3 separate regions of the Homo sapiens genome follow, and all the other regions are linked to region 2. Evidence: fine-mapped expression QTL. A gene starts in region 2. Each other region holds a variant in brackets. All regions are shown on one strand. Distances are between the middles of the regions.

The links.
Region 1: its variant is fine-mapped to the expression of CBFA2T3 in whole blood (INTERVAL, PIP above 0.99).
Region 3: its variant is fine-mapped to the expression of CBFA2T3 in whole blood (TOPMed, PIP above 0.99).

What each region holds. Positions count from the first base shown.
Region 1 is chr16:88,934,402-88,939,401 of GRCh38, reverse strand. The region is part of intron 1 of CBFA2T3 (CBFA2/RUNX1 partner transcriptional co-repressor 3); the gene reads left to right. LOC107984871 (a long non-coding RNA gene) reads left to right here. Exons shown (of 2, transcript XR_001752305.3): 1 at 1-1,816; 2 at 2,264-2,624. It overlaps LOC100129697 (a long non-coding RNA gene), which reads right to left and starts at 131. Exons shown (of 2, transcript NR_168285.1): 1 at 1-131. RefSeq lists an enhancer at 2,938-3,137. The variant C/T (reference allele first, on the strand shown) is at 2,566.
Region 2 is chr16:88,974,840-88,980,113 of GRCh38, reverse strand. CBFA2T3 (CBFA2/RUNX1 partner transcriptional co-repressor 3) reads left to right here and starts at 2,907. Exons shown (of 12, transcript NM_005187.6): 1 at 2,907-3,457. The coding sequence starts at 3,307. RefSeq lists enhancers at 2,486-2,535, 4,376-4,585, 4,238-4,782.
Region 3 is chr16:88,882,650-88,887,649 of GRCh38, reverse strand. It overlaps CBFA2T3 (CBFA2/RUNX1 partner transcriptional co-repressor 3), which reads left to right. Exons shown (of 12, transcript NM_005187.6): 6 at 1,508-1,689; 7 at 2,381-2,604; 8 at 4,889-4,974. It overlaps LOC101927793 (a long non-coding RNA gene), which reads right to left and starts at 4,135. Exons shown (of 3, transcript NR_135194.1): 1 at 3,432-4,135; 2 at 2,806-3,029; 3 at 514-1,908. The variant A/T (reference allele first, on the strand shown) is at 2,728.

The DNA of each region.
Region 1 (5,000 bases), 41 kb after region 2:
CTTCCGGCAGGCTCCATCTCTCCTGGGATGTGCTGGGATCCTCTAGTGACAGGGGAGAAGGGAAGTTCACATGAGTGGTTCGTGGTGCTGGGGCCGTGCTGTCACCACCTGTGAAGCCAGGGCTGGTGAGTGGGAGGGCTTTCCCCAGACATCGCCTTCCAGAACCCTCTGGGGCTACGAAGCCACACACCAGCCGCCCGAGCCCCCCTGAGCTCTTCCCCTGCCGCCCGCTATCTGCGTAATTCAGTTACCACCTCCAGGAAATCTCTCTGGTTTGGCTCCACGTATTTTCATTTCTGCATGACTGGAAGAAATTAATTTTTCTCCCTACGCGAGGATCTGGAGATGCTGCCAGCAGGCTGGGTCACTAATCCCCAAGATCCCAGCCCTCAGGGCTGCAGTGGGGAGGGCCGGGCCTCGCCGCTGCCGCCTCTGGGGTGGCAGGGAGGGTGTGAGGTGGGTGAGGCATTTCCCTGCCAGCTTCTGGAACCATCTTGGGGCTCTCCGCTGGCCTCCCCCCTTCCCTGCTGCACCGTTAGCAGGTTGACTTTGGGGTTTTCTGATTCATCCTCAGCCTCCCACAGTGCCAGGGTGGAAGGATGGTGCTTGAATTAAGTGGCTCTGAATTTCCTTCCCTGGCAGGGAGGAACCAGAAGCAACTTCAGCGTGCCCCAGTGCCGTGTGTGCCACGCGGGTGTTCAGACCCAGCATGGAGGGACTAGCAGGGCCTTGTTATTGGTGCCACAGGTGAAGGCGCTGGCGTCTCCATGGGGCTGCTCTCCCGGCCCGCACTTGCTGCACTGCCTGCCTGTGGCCTGTGTCTCCTGCTCACAGGGTCGTGGAGCCTTCCTGGGTGGGTCTTAGAGCCTACAACAGCGCTGGGGCTTACACGCACTGTCGCGTCCCTGTAACACCCACGAGGGCCGTGGAGCGTTCCCCGTCTCCGACGCCGGGAGAGGTACAGTCACTCCACAGGTCATGCAGGGAGCCAGTCTGACGGCGGGCCGCAGCGAGTGTCTCCAGGCCCCTGTCCAGCCCCGCCCAGTCCCTGTCCAGCCCTGCCCGGGCGTTCCTTTGCCTGTGCTGTCGGTCCCCATCCCCAGCCTGCCGGGCCACATTCTTAGAGCACCTGAGCACCCCCAAGGGACTGGGGGATCTGGTGGCTGAGGGCTCGGTCATGACTCGGGGTTAGCACTGTAGGTGCAAAAGCCCTCACCTGGATACAGGCCCTGGGGCCCATCTGGGGTCAGGGCACGGGTGGGAGAACTTGACCTCTGCCCTGCCTGGGTCATGGAGCCCCAAGGCCAGCCTCATCCCGGCTGCTCTAGGTCTGCACCTCTGGCCAGCCCCACCTCTGCTTCCTGCCCTGCTGTGCAGGGGAGGGAGGTCGTTGTTGCTAAAGACCCTCCAGAAGCCACTGGAACATTGCCCGGCTATTATCACAGACATGGCATCCAGTGTTCATAGAAATCCACGTCCAGGCAACCGATGTCACCTCCCAGGCTGGCCCCAGGCCCCTGGGGACGGAAAGGACCTAAACTCTACAATTTGTCAATGCCGGAGGGTGGCTTTGCCACCACTTCACTTACAGGACAAAAAGTGCCTGTCCTCCAGTGCTCATTCCCTGGGCAAGTATTGATCGAACACCTACTCCATACCAGGCGGGGGCAGAGTCACATGCAGTGAGAGGCACCCAGGCCCTGCATTGGATCCTCACGGCAGCCAGCCCTGAGGGCACCGCTGCTGCCCCACTTTCCAGACCGGGAAGCCGAGGCCCACAGAAGTTCCTAGCTCACAGCGCAGGAGCCCGACGCGGGTGGGTACCACGGGGCTCTGTCTGTGACACATCCAGGGTGGTCAGGCCCCTGGAACTTCCCACTGAGTTCTGACACGGGAGGGCCAGCGTGGGGACGGCAGGGAGTGGGCCGGGAGTGTGCAGAGTCCAGTGCACACTGTGGGCTGGGACCCGCTGCCTCGCAGGGGCAGGAGAGGGGTGGAAACACAACTGCTGGGGTACTGGCTAGGGAGGTGCAGGCCGCTTGAGGGCAGCTCAGAGGGAGGCTCACGACAGCGTCACCATCCCTGGTGTCAGGGCCAGGTTGGGTGGACACCACGCTGTTCGTCCACCTCGTGGCTCAGTCTCTCTGGGAAAGCCTGCGTCAGTGAACGACACCCCAGATCCTTTCCTGGGGGTTTTATTCTCCACCTCCTGACTTTCCTGGGCAGAGTGAGAAGGCCTGGTTCTGCTTCTGCGCTTCCGTAGGCCGGGACCTTCCTTTCAGCGGAGCCCAGGCCGTGCTGCGGGAAACAGCCCACCGGGCAGGCCTGGGAGGGCCGCCTTAGCCGAGAGCAAATGCAGGCAAGGGCTTTGCTTGTCTGGAAAAAAAATTCCTGGAGTGGAAACCGCCCTTGTAGCATCAGTGGAAAAGACTCAGGCGGAGACCTGGCAGTTGGGCTGGAAACTGACGATGAGGAGAGTGAGAGATAACTGCTCCCCAGTCCCCACTTCTGAGCTCGCAGCTTGCCCCGAGGGTGGGAGCTGGGGACTCAGGACCCGCCGGGATC[C/T]GGCTTTCCGCCTGTGCTGTGGCAATGAGTTTCCTGTGGCAATAAAACAGAAGTTCAGACTTCTGCTTTTTGTAATTCGTGGGACCTCACTGAGAGCCAGATGTCACTGGGAAGGAAAACAAAGATGAATTTGGCCGTAATAAGGAAGATGTCTCCCGGAGCCAAGGCACCAGCAGCCCAGCCGGCAGCTCACCCCGCACTGCTGTCGGCCGCCTGCCTCTGCGTTTCCCGCCCGCTTAGCCACCCAGGGCCGGTTCTGCCCCGTCGGGTCTGGGCAGCTCAGAGCCTCCTCGGCTGCCCCTGAGGCTGAGGTCGTGGTGGATACTCGGCTGCCCCTGAGGCTGGGGTCGTGGTGGATACTCGGCTGCCCCTGAGGCTGGGGTCGTGGTGGATACTCGGCTGCCCCTGAGGCTGGGGTCGTGGTGGATGCTTGGCTGCCCCTGAGGCTGGGGTCATGGTGGACGTGGCAGGAGGAGGTTTGGGGAGGAAGTCCAGGCACCGGGGCAGTCTTCTGTTTACTCAGCAGAGGAAAGTCCACACCGGGGAGGCAGCAGGTGGGACCTGCCGGAGACCAGGATGGGAGATACCTGGGAGACGCCCAGGAAATGCCCGGGGCAGTCAGGAGGGCTCCTGCGCACCCTGGTGGCCCCAGGTCACACATGGAACTCATGAGGAAGTCCCCGCCCAGTGTACCCGACCTCCCTGAGTACCCGGGAAAGCCAGGGTGCCATCAAGCCAGCAGGGGAAGCAGCTCCAGCTGCAGTGAGACCCTCTTACAGGTGGGGAGGGGCTCCCCACGAGGGCCAGGGGTGACTGCAGCCCCCTGCCCTGTTCCCGGAGGCAGCGGGGAGGGGGATGGGCAGCCCCTCGGTTTCTTGGAGCCCCCACCTGGATTCGACTCCCCTCCCAGCAGCTGCGTGACCTACACCACATATTCCCATCTGTCCCTCGGGTCTCAAACGCAAAATGCAGTCACAAAGGCATTTACCCCTTCGGGCTGTGATGAGCTGGGATGTGTGTGTCTGGACTGGGACCATCAGCCTCGTCCCTTTTCTGGGGGGACACCCGGTGGTGTCCTGAGGCTCAGTGGTGGATGCGGCATGATGCAGCTCTGCACCCAGGCCCCCTTCTCTGCAGGCCCCCGAACAGAAGTTCATTGTCTGCACCTTTGCAAAATGGGGTGGTCCAGAGAGACCACCTCGATGGTCAGACTCTGGCACAGCCCAGACCCCAGGCCCTGTGCCTGCTCCACCCACGCGAGGACAGCCTGCAAGCTTGGGGCCAAGCCCTGGGCCCCCGGGTGCACCACGCCACCTGCAGACCCATTTACAGAGGGGAAACTGAGGGTAAGATCAGTTGTACTCTAGTTACTCCCTGTCAGAGGCAGAATTCCCACTTGGGAGCCGAGGCCACCTGACTTGGGCCCTCCAGAGCCTAGGTATTTCTGCACCACCAGGGTCCCCACGCAGGTGGTGGGGGGCTCTCACCAGGCCTGGGGATTGCCGGGCCCCTCCCCTTGCCTTGGCCACCACACCAGGGCTCCACAGCCTAGTCCAGCCCAGCCTGTACTCAGAGCGCAGTGGACATGGGGCCCTTCCATGCAGCCTCTCCTGCGCCAGAGACATCAGAACCCAGGACTGCCCCTGACCGGGGGCAGCGTTGGGTCTCTGGGCCGTGGCTGTGCCCAAGTGGACAGAACAGGGGCCTTGGGTGCTGGACTCCACGTATCCCTGTGCCTGATGGAGGCTTGCAGCTCCACCACGTGGCCTTCAGCTCCCTTAAAGAATGCGTCCTTCTGGCCAGGCACGGTGGCTTACGCCTGTAATCCCAGCACTTTGGGAGGCCAAGGCGGGTGGATCACGAGGTCAGGAGATCGAGACCATCCTGGCTAACACGGTGAAACCCCGTCTCTACTAAAAAATACAAAAAATTAGCCGGGCGTGGTGGCGGGCGCCTGTAGTCCCAGCTACTGGGGAGGCTGAGGCAGGAGAATAGCGTGAACCCGGGAGGCAGAGCTTGCAGTGAGCCGAGATCGCGCCACTGCACTCCAGCCTGGGCGACAGAGCGAGACTCCGTCTCCGAGAAAAAAAGAATGCGTCCTTCTGAACTTCGGGGGTGGAAGAGGGCAGGGCACGGCCCTTCGTGCCTCTTTCGTGGCATCTCTGCCTCCTTTACCAGGCCCTGCCAACAGCAAGAATAGGCAGGCAGCGAGGCCAGACTCCTCTCCGCTCCTCTGGGCCTCCGTGTCCCCATCTGTCCCTTGCGGGGGTTGGTCAGCACCACACACTGTGCACAGGGAAGATGGAGCCTCGCCTGTCGCCCCCCGATGGTGCCGGCCGTGCCGGCCAGGTGTGTGGCTGAGACCCTCTCTGTGTGGCCCTGCTGGCTGCTGTGTCCCCACCGTGCCTCTGCGGCCGAGCTGCTCCTTCAGGGTC
Region 2 (5,274 bases):
ATCCACCCATTCACTCATCTATCCACTCATCCACCCATTCACCCGTCTATCCACCCATCCACACATTCACCCATCTATCCACCCACCCACCCACACACCCATCCACCATTCATTCACCCACACACCCATCCATCTACCTACCCACCCATTCACCCATCTCTCCATCCACCCACCCATTTACCCATTTATCCATTCATCCATCCACCCATTCACCCATCTTTCCGCCCATTCACCCATCTATCCATCCACCCACCCATCCACACATCTATCCATCCACCCACCCATCCACCCACTCACTCACTCACCCATCTATCCACCCACTCACCCATCTATCCACCCATCCATCCACCCATTCACTCATCCACCCACCCACCCATCCACCCATCATCTACCCACCCATCCACTCACCCACCCACCCATTCATTCATCAATCTATTCATTCATCTATTCATCCAGCAGTGAAGGGTGTGTGTGTTGGGGGTGGGGGGGTTCCTACATGCTAGAAGAGAAGGCAAACATAAGACACCCTGCCTGAAGGAAGGCCTCCTCACCCACCCCCACATGGCGTCATCTCCCCCACTGCCCCCTCACCCTCCTCCAGTTCTCTGGCCATCCTACAGATTCACCAAAGCCTGCCTTAGGGCCCCTCTGCCCACCCAGGGACAGTTTCCCCAACTGCCCTATGGGCCCCACATGCTGGGCCATGTTGATGGAACGTGTCTCCTATAGTTCCCAGAGAGCAGGACCAGGGGCTGTCTTGGACACCGAAAGAACCCCAGTAGGCCCTAATAGGTCTTTTAGGAAGGAAGGAAAGGCCCCTCCTGCCCCGAGAGGCTGGGTGCTGGCTGCAGACAGCAGAGGTCCCTGGGAGAAGCCGAGGCCCCTCCTGCTGCCCCCACCTCTGCAGCCACTTCCTCCCCAGCCCCTTATCTCCTGGCCGCCCAGCTCTGAAAGCCACAGCCAACGTCTGCTTCCCCACAAGCACCAACTGCCCGGCCTGGGGGAGAGGAGGCCGGTAGTGGGGAGGTGGGGAGTGGTGCCCACACCCCCAGGTGGCCGCCAAAGTTGGGGGGCAGCTCCTGCCCCCAACTTGTGGGCAACTTTCTTCTCTTCTCTTTCCAACCCCACCTCCGTCAGACCCCCTGATTAGACACCAGGCAAGACGGGGCCAGGCGGGGAGCTCAGGGCCTCATTGCGAAAGTGGAAGTGTCCCATCTGTGGGGGGCGCAGGTGCAGGCCTCGAACATCTGCCTCAGGGCTGGGGGCAGGGCTGCCTGTCTCCTACCCCGGGTGGGGGGAGCCACCACCCTCACCCAGGGTGCTGTCCTGCTGCCTCACGGAGTGGGGGCTGTGCCCCCTGAGACCCTCAGTTCCCCGACTCTGAGACTCTCACTGCACACAGCTGGGGAATAGGCACTGACACAGACCAACCCCAGCCACATGCTCACGGTGGCCCCGGCCCATGTGGCGGCTCAGAGCCTCTGCTGTCTCCACTCCCGGAAACGCTGTAGGAGCTGACGCCGTTAGGATCGTGCACCCTGCACAAATGAGGAAACCAGGAGGGTCAGGGCCCCCAGGACCCTCACTGTGAATCCCACCCTGAGCCAGAGCACAGGGAACAGCAGGGGACGTGGGGACCGAATGATGGCACCAGGGGATGGGCCCCGGGCTGGCAGGAATGTCCCCTCCAGCCTCAGTCCTGGGGGCAGAACGGCCGACCACCCAGGGCAGGGGAGGCCCCGGGTGGGCCTGGCGTCTGGGAAGTTCCCCAGCAGGAACAAACACATCCCCACTGTAAGCTGGACACACACGCTGGCATGCAGCTTGTTGTCACCAACTCGAGAAAGACACTCGACTATTGGGACAGGGAGACCCGGGACACCTGGAGACCCTGCGGGGAAGGAGTCGGCTTTTACTCCTGCACGGCTTGAATTATTAACTGCGTGCAAACGTGACCTAAAACTCAAATCAAATCAAATCAAAATAGCACAGATGCCCGTGAGCCGGCCCTGGGTCTGCGGGCTCCACACCTCTGGCCTGTCTGAGGCCGGGAAACCTCCAGCCATGGCATCAGAAAAGCCACCGAACCAGGGCTGCAGGGCCGAAGGGTCACTGTCCCCTCCCAGGAAGCTCCTGCCCTCTGACAGTTGTCAGGGAGCTTTAGAAAGTGGCTTTTTTTCCCAGCATCTGGGATGTGCCTCACTCTCTCAGCCCAACGGCCGCTAGAAAGGGGTCCTAGGACTCTCCCTAGGGTCTAAGTAGTCCCAAGAGTGCTCTGAGGTGGCTTCTGGAATTTCCCAGACTGGAGAAGCCACCTACCCCCGACCCCCGCAAACTCCAGGCTGCTCACCGGAGGCGGCCGCTGGGGCGTGGGGTGAGGGTCTTTCTGAGGCACCCCCGGAGAGTGGGGGAGCCCTGCTGTCTCCACAGAGGGCCAGGAGCCCTGTGCACGAGGCCAAGCAGAGAGAGAGGGTTTCCTTCCCAGCAGGCGGGAGGTACTTTGAGGACAGGTCAGGTGCCCAAGAACCCCGGAGCAGGGGCTGAGGAGAGGCTGGTCAGAGGCCCCGCCTTGCTCAAGGGCACAGTCAGCAGACACAGGAACACGGGCAGGGTGGCCCCTGGAGCGGGGGCAAACTAAAAGGGGTGCTGGGGAAAGCTCGGCTGACTGAGGGCTAGCGGAGAGGGAGGACACCCCCAGATACCCCAGGCTGAAGGAAGGGCCAAGCCCTGGGGGGAAGATGGGTGGGCGGGACAGGCCAAGGGCTCTGGGCCAGGATGGAGCTGCCCTCAGGCCTGCACACCTGCCCTGGGGCCGAGGAAACACATGCCCAGTGGCCACGCTGTAGGGCTCAGGGTGGGTGGGACGTCACCAGAGCTGCCTGGGAGGAGGAAGTTGTTGGAAGGTCAAACCGGAATGGCCCGAGGGAAGGCCGCGCAGGGCAGGGCCCCAGATGGTTCCTGTCAGGGAAGTGGCGGGCGCAGCTGCAGGCCTCCGGCCCCGGCATTATCACGGGGACACAGCTGGCTGCCTCACCCGCAGGCTGCAGGGAGACCTTCCCCAGCCTGCAGCCCCAGGCCCGCCCCGCGTCACATGAGCCCCAGGGCTCCCACCCCCTCCCCAGGGCAGAGGACACCCAGTTGGTGGCCGGGAGGGCCTCGGCTTTCCAGGGACAGAGGCCCAACTCCAGGACGCCCCAGCTGGCCCAGCCCCTCCTCTTTCCCTCAAGGCTGCAGGAGGTCGGGAAAGGCAGTCCTGGTAGAGGCCTGTCCTGGGCTCCAGGTTGGCCCCTGAGGGTGGCCCTCCTCATGCCGGCTTCAAGACTGAGGGACAGGGCAGCCAGTTCAGCCTCGGGATCCACCTGTGGCTCCATGTCCCAGACGCACCCTGTGCTGGAGAGCGGCCTCCTGGCATCTGCCGGCTGCTCCGCACCCCGGGGTCCCAGGAAGGGCGGCCCAGGTAAGAGGCTCGAGGGGAAGGTGGTGGGGTGGGGGCAGAGAGCGGCAGCCGGTGCCGGGGCTGTGACTCCTTAGAGCTTCGCGGGGCCTGCCCAGCTTAGTTGACAGTGCCGGCACGGATGGCCGTGTTGACTCACCTCAGATATCAACAGGGCCACCCCACAGGCAGGTCCTGCACAGCTGGGGCAGGTGGGCTGGTGAGGGTTTGGCAGGTGCCAGCCAGGTGCCCCAGCCCCACCCAGAGGCAGATGCTGGAGGCCGGGCTGCTCAGCCCCGTCTAGGAGGGTGGGCTGTGTTCTCCTGGGGGTGGGAGGGCCGCAGCCGGGAAGTGATGGGGGGGTCCTAGAAAGAGAGCCCTCCTCCTCCTGGGATGCCCTCCGGGTGTGACACCTCACAGCAGGTTGGATGAGGAAACTGAGGCCAGAGGGGAGGGCACTGGCCCAAGACCCCGGTGAGGAGGAAATGGACCCAACCCTGGGCCCCTGTCCGAGGAACGATTCCAGCCAGGGCAGTGGGGGTTTACGGGGAACCTGGGCCTGCCCTTCTGGGGGCTTCGGGCTCTGGGGAGGGGTCCAGTCCAGCAGGACGCCAGCTATTGCTGATACCCCCCACCCGAGCCTGCGAAGTCCCAGGACAAGGATCCCCGGACGCTGGGGGCTGCAGCTGCAGGCTGGTGGCCCCGATTCCCAGTGGCCCTCGTGGCCACACTCCCAGCAGCCGTCGGAACCTTCAGGAGCTCACAGTCTCCCGTCTCGCGGGGCTCTCACTGAGGCCGTCAGGTCCAAGGTCTGACTGCACCCCTGACACTCACACACAGAACCCGGGACCGAGGGGTGTCCCCATCTCTGGAGACCACATTCCCTGAGCAGGTCCTGGCGGCGGCTGCCTGAGGCTGTTCCCACCTGCAGCTGCCCGTGGGGCCCCAGGGCCATCCCCCACAAGGGCCCCAGATGTGAGCAGGAACTTCCCAACCCCGGGTGCCCGGAATGCAAAGGCCGGACCTCACCACAGCCAGTGCTACTGTTCGTTTCTCCCGAATGGGTGACTCAGAGCCACCTTCAAGGCAGCACCAGCCCACTGGCCCTGGCATCTGCCATCCCGTCCTCTCTGGAGCGGCCCTGTCTATCCCCTGGCGCTGAGTGGCCTTGGGCCGGGTGCTTCCTCCCTGGGCCTCAGTTTCCTCATGGTTCAGACCCTTCCGACCTGCTCCCCGCGTGAGAGCAGGTTCTCACCGGCGCGGAGAGAGACGGGCTCTGAGGCGCATGGAGAGCCGCCGCTTTGTTAGGATGGGGGCGTCTACTGTGGAAGGACGGGGGTGTCTACCGTGGAAGGAGGTTAGGGCCAAGAGGTGGCCCCGTGCCTGAGTCATGCGAGGGGCTGCTGGCTAGAGGCATGAAACAGAGGGTCAGGGCGGGCCTCTGACATGGCTGCAGGTGAGGAGCAGAGGGTCAGGGTGGACCTCTGACATGGCTAAAGATGTGGAGCAGAGAGGGTCAGGGTGGACCTCTGACATGGCTGCAGGTCAGGAGCAGAGGGCCAGGGTGGCCTCTAACACAGAGTACCCAGCCACTGTGCCCACCCCCAGGGAGCCCCTGCTTAGGGGCTGCAATGTGAGGAGGGAGCAGGGTCTCACTTGGGTGCGGGGTCCTGCCCCTGGCTTCTAGGGGCTTCTGTCCGTGCAACCACCCGGCCCTATTCCAGGGTACCCATGGGACAGCCTTAGCCACATCAGGCAGCAGAGTTACATGTGAATACCAGCACTTGGGGCTTCTCATCCTGTACCCCAGGGGCCTCCCAAGGCCCCCAGGGGACAGATGT
Region 3 (5,000 bases), 92 kb after region 2:
TTCCGCAGGCCTTGAGGAAACATTCCCTGCTTGCCGAGGGCTGCTGTGCATCCGGCCCCTACGCTGATGCTGCCCAGTCCTGGGTTCTCTGCACCCTTTCCTGAGCCTGCCCCACACGCAGCCCAAGGGTCAGGCCTTCCAGAAGCTGGGGGATGCAGCCCCACCCACCGCCCCGGCTCCCAGCTGGCCTCAGCTGGCCCCAGCCAGCCAGGGATCCAGATGTTCTCCCCGCCCTAACAGCGACCAGCCGGTTCCCGAACTGACCAAGAGGAGGCCCCTGGGGAGGGGCTGATGAGGGAGGGAGGATGTTTGGCTCCTCAGACCTCCCGGGACCTCGTTTCCCAGCTCATGCTCCTGATGTCCTCAACAGATGGCCGGTTGGCCCCTGTTCAGCCATCCAAAGAGAAAAACAGGCCGGCAGCCGGCACTGCTCGAGGGCCTGGTGGATGCACTCGTGGGGAATGGGGAGGCGCTGGCAGGAGAAGGCGGCGTGGCAGCTTTGAAACGCATGAGAAAGTTGGGGAATTGGATTTATTTACAAATGCTTAGAACCGCTGGCTCTCCCAAGTGGCCTGCTGCTGGGCCCTGGTCCAGCATGCTCAGGGTCCAGCACGCCTGTCCGCCCTCCCGCGGCAGCTCTGGGAAGACTTTGGGGAAGGCACCCGAGGAGCCCGGCTTGCGGCCCAGCAGTGCCAGCCTGGAGCCAAGGACGAGGCGGCGGGCGCCGCGGGTACACACAGGCGTCAAAGGCAGGGTCTGCATACGGATCCCGTACACCGGGCCGTCCTTCGGCCGCATGCTGCGGAGTCTTTACCCGCACACGTGGGTCTTGAGGCCGTCCTCACCAAGGCTGGAGGATCACTTGAGCAGCCACAGAACGTGGGTGTCCACGTCCTAGGTCCACGCTCCATCAAGGCCAAGGCTGGAAACCAGCGGGAAGGGAAGGGGAAGCTGAACCTCAGGGCTTCCCATCAGGGCTGGAGCAGACACACTGCAGGCAATCCCAGCTGGGTTTCACTCCCAGCTCCCTCGTGTGAGCCGCCTGTAGGCCCAGGGCTGCCTCCCCCTCTCTGAGCCTGCATTTCCCCAGCTGTGTTGGGTCATGTGGTGCCTGCTGGGCAGGGCGGGTGCAGGCGGGAAGACCAACCATGATCTGCTGCCCCTTCGTCCTCTCGCCTTCTCCAGACCACGCCATGGGAGGGAGCTGGGTGCGGTGGGAAAGCCCCACCCTGGGAGTCCAGGATCTGGGCTCAAGTCCCACATGCCCCACATCGCCGTGTGGCCCAGGTGAGGCACTCCTGCGAAGCTCTGTGCCCACCCTCCCACGCCACCCTCCCATGGCACTGCTAGGAAGGAACTTGAGGCCCAGAGAGGTCGAGCACCTTGACCTTTGAGGCCCGAGGTCAAGTTGAGCTTTCGGCCACCCAGCCCAGGCCCCCTCTGCTCGGACCTGAGCAGGGCTGTGCACCCCTGCATGCTACCCAGGCCCTCCTTCCCCACCCCACAGGCAAACCTGCCCTTGCTGCAGCGGGAGCTCCTGCACTGTGCACGCCTGGCCAAGCAGACGCCCGCCCAGTACTTGGCCCAGCATGAGCAGCTCCTGCTGGACGCCAGCGCCTCCTCCCCCATCGACTCCTCAGAGCTGCTACTGGAAGTCAACGAGAACGGCAAGAGGAGGACGCCCGACAGGTACCTGTGGGCTCCGGGGATCTGGGCTGGGGGTGCCGTGGACACGCGGCTCACCCTGCTCCCCTCTGGGTAAGAGAGGGAACCTCCTCTGGGGCTGCAGCCAGCCCGGCCGGCTCTCTCGGGCTGAGGGAGCGTGGCGAGGTGTACTAGGGCCAGCAGGCTTGGTGGCTGCACGGGCGGACACCCCAGTGGGCTGCAGACTCAGATGCTCCGGGGAGCCTAGGAGGACAGGGAGGAGGCTGGTGGGAGGACGGCTCTCCCCTGTGTGCCGGGCATGGACTCCGAGCGTCCGGGGTCCATGGTCCCCAGGTGCCTGGGCTGGGCCCCCTCTGCTGCCCCAGACGCTCTTGTGCTGCTGCTGCCCAAGGGGCAGGTGGTCTCCAGTTACGGAAGCCTGGTGTATCCCTCTCCTCGTTCCCAGAGCAGCGAGTCCGGCTCTTTGACCACCAGGCCCCAGGATGCCATGCAGCTGGAGCAGGGGTTGAGGCTGGCATGGGCCCCGGCAGAGGGGCAGAGAGTGGGGGCGCCGGGCTGGGCTTCCCGGGGCTGGTGTTTTGCTCCGTGTTTCTGTCTCGCCCTTACGTGTCCTCTTTCTCTCTGCCCTTGCCTGTCTGCCTCTCACCCCACCTGCACCTCTGTCCCCGGTTCATCCTATGTCCACTGCCCTCGCCCCACCTGCTCTTGGGGCTAGGACCAAAGAGAACGGGTCAGACCGCGACCCGCTGCACCCCGAGCACCTCAGCAAACGGCCATGCACCCTGAACCCTGCCCAGCGCTACAGCCCCAGCAACGGGCCACCGCAGCCCACACCGCCGCCGCACTACCGCCTGGAGGACATAGCCATGGCCCACCACTTCCGAGATGCCTACCGCCACCCAGACCCCCGGGAGCTACGAGAGCGCCATCGGCCGCTTGGTGAGCAGCCCGGTGGGGCGGGAGCGTGGACGCGTGTTACAGGAGCACACATGCGCCCACATGTACACCTGAGCATGTGGGCACAGGGCACCACGGGCAGCTGTGTGCACCTGAGCTCGGGAG[A/T]CCCCTTCCCCCTGCCTGGCATTCCCCCTGGAGCAGAGCGGTGGCTGCAGAGGGGCCTGTCCTGGGCCCTGAACCCACCTCTCCCCCCGGGGTGGGCGGCCTCGGGCCTGGAACTGCCCACGTGGTTCTCATCCGAGCTTGGCGATTCCCACAGTCCACCCACAGGTGAGTCACGTGGCTCTCTGCTTCTCAGTTTCCTCCTCTGTCACCTGGGCCAGACGAGAGTCCCAACTCTCAGAGTCCAAGGCCTGGGGGAGTTAATGCAGGGCCCAGCAAGGGCTGCCGTGAGGCCTGGCTGGTATCTAGAGCAGGAGAGGGGCACAGAGTCTCTGCGTGAGGCCAGGCTGGTGTGGATAACAGAGAGGTGGGCACGGAGTCTCGGTGCATTTTATCCTTCACTCGTTTCTGAGCCCGTCAGTGGGGTGGCGTCAGCACCCCCATACCACAGATGAGGAGACTGAGGCCTGAGAGCACACATAATGCACCCACAGTCTCACAGCCCAGCCTGCCTGACGTTTTGACGGCCTCTGTGCTGAGAACCCAGAGATGGTCAGGCCCAGCCCCACCCCAGGAGCCCCCCCAGGACAGGCTGCAGGGAGGCCTCCAGTCTGCCATGCTGAGACAGAGGCCCAGGGCCCGGTGGGGGCCCAGCAGCAGGGTCAGCAGAGGCCTTGCCCTACACAAGGCCATCTCCCAGCCCCCACCTTGCGGAGGGTTCCAGGGCCCAGGCAGCAGGTGACGGCGTCTGGCATGCTGCAGCCGGGTCAGGCAGGTGCTGACTCCCACCCGATTCTGCTAATACAGAAATAAACGCCAGCTGTCGGGCACGTCTCAGCCACTATTTTGGTTGGGGTGTTGCTGCCAGCTGCAGCTTCACAGGCGGCAGAGCAGGCTGGTGACTGAGCTGTGGCTGCCACTTCCCCACCTCCTCTGCAATTTGGGGGAGCCATTTCAGGTTCGGAGGCTAGGAGATCTTTAGGGGCTGAAAAGGGCCCCAAGAGGGAGACCTCAGCCCCAGAAGCGTGGGCAGTGGCCAAATGCAGAAAACAGTGGGGCCTGGAAGCCTCTGATGTCTCCAGAAGTCGTGGGCGCAGCTACCACGAAAGAGTAAGCCACTGCCGGGCGTCACTCACGTCTCCCGTGGGCACAGCCACCGCAGAAGAGTTGGCCACTGCCGGGCATCACTCACGTCTCCCGTGGGCGCAGCCACCGTGGAAGTCGGCCACTGCCGGGGTCACTCACGTCTCCCGTGGGCGCAGCCACCGCAGAAGAGTCGGCCACTGCCGGGCGTCACTCACGTCTCCCATGGGCACAGCCACGGCGGAAGAGTCGGCCACTGCCGGGCGTCACTCACGTCTTAGTTTCTGGTGACCTGTGGGAGTGGCCTCTGCGGCTTCAGTCCTGGAGCCTGTCAAAAGGGAAAAACCTTAGACACGCTGTATTGAACAGAGTTTAACTGAGCAGAGAACAACCCCGAATAGGATGGGCCTCAGAGCCAGCGTGTTCCGAGAGCCCTGGCCTCGGCTTGGCTGGCGGTGTTCACAGGCAGAGACAGGAGGCGGGTGCCGAGGCCACGTGGTTGGGTGGTGTTTGGCGTGGCTTCATCGGAGTCATGGGCGCCTGCGGGTGACCGCAGAGGGCTGCCGCGAATGACTGAGACCAGCTCCTCCCAGTGAGGTTACCCATTGATTCACGGACTAAGGCAGGTCCAGGTCATGGTGTGACTTGGCACTGAGGCATCCTCAGGCCACGCTTAGTCTAACAAAGCCTTCCCGGCCAGTGGCTGAGGACACTGCTCCAGCTCCAGCCAGCCTCGGTCCACACCCCACCCCCACCGCTCCCTGCCTGGTGACCACAGGCAAACACATCCTCTTAACCAGCCTCAGTTTCCTCAGCTGCAGAATGGGACTGAGACTGAACCCTCCCTTGGAGGCGTGTGCCGTGTTGCAGGGGAAGAGCAGTCGGCCCAGAGCCCCAGGCGGCTCAGTAACCCAGGCATCCTCCACGGTCACCAAGTCAACCAGCCCTTCGGTTACCCTGTCCATCGTCCCCAGCGGGCACAGCCCACGGGTGGGGCCTGGGAGCAGAGGGCGGGGTCTGGGAGAATAGGGCAGAGACTGGCTGTGGGTGGGACCTAAGCGTGCACCTCCCCCATCCACAGTGGTGCCTGGGTCCCGGCAGGAAGAAGTGATCGACCACAAGCTCACAGAGCGTGAGTGGGCAGAAGAGTGGAAGCACCTCAACAACGTGAGTGTCCACACACAGCCACGCCC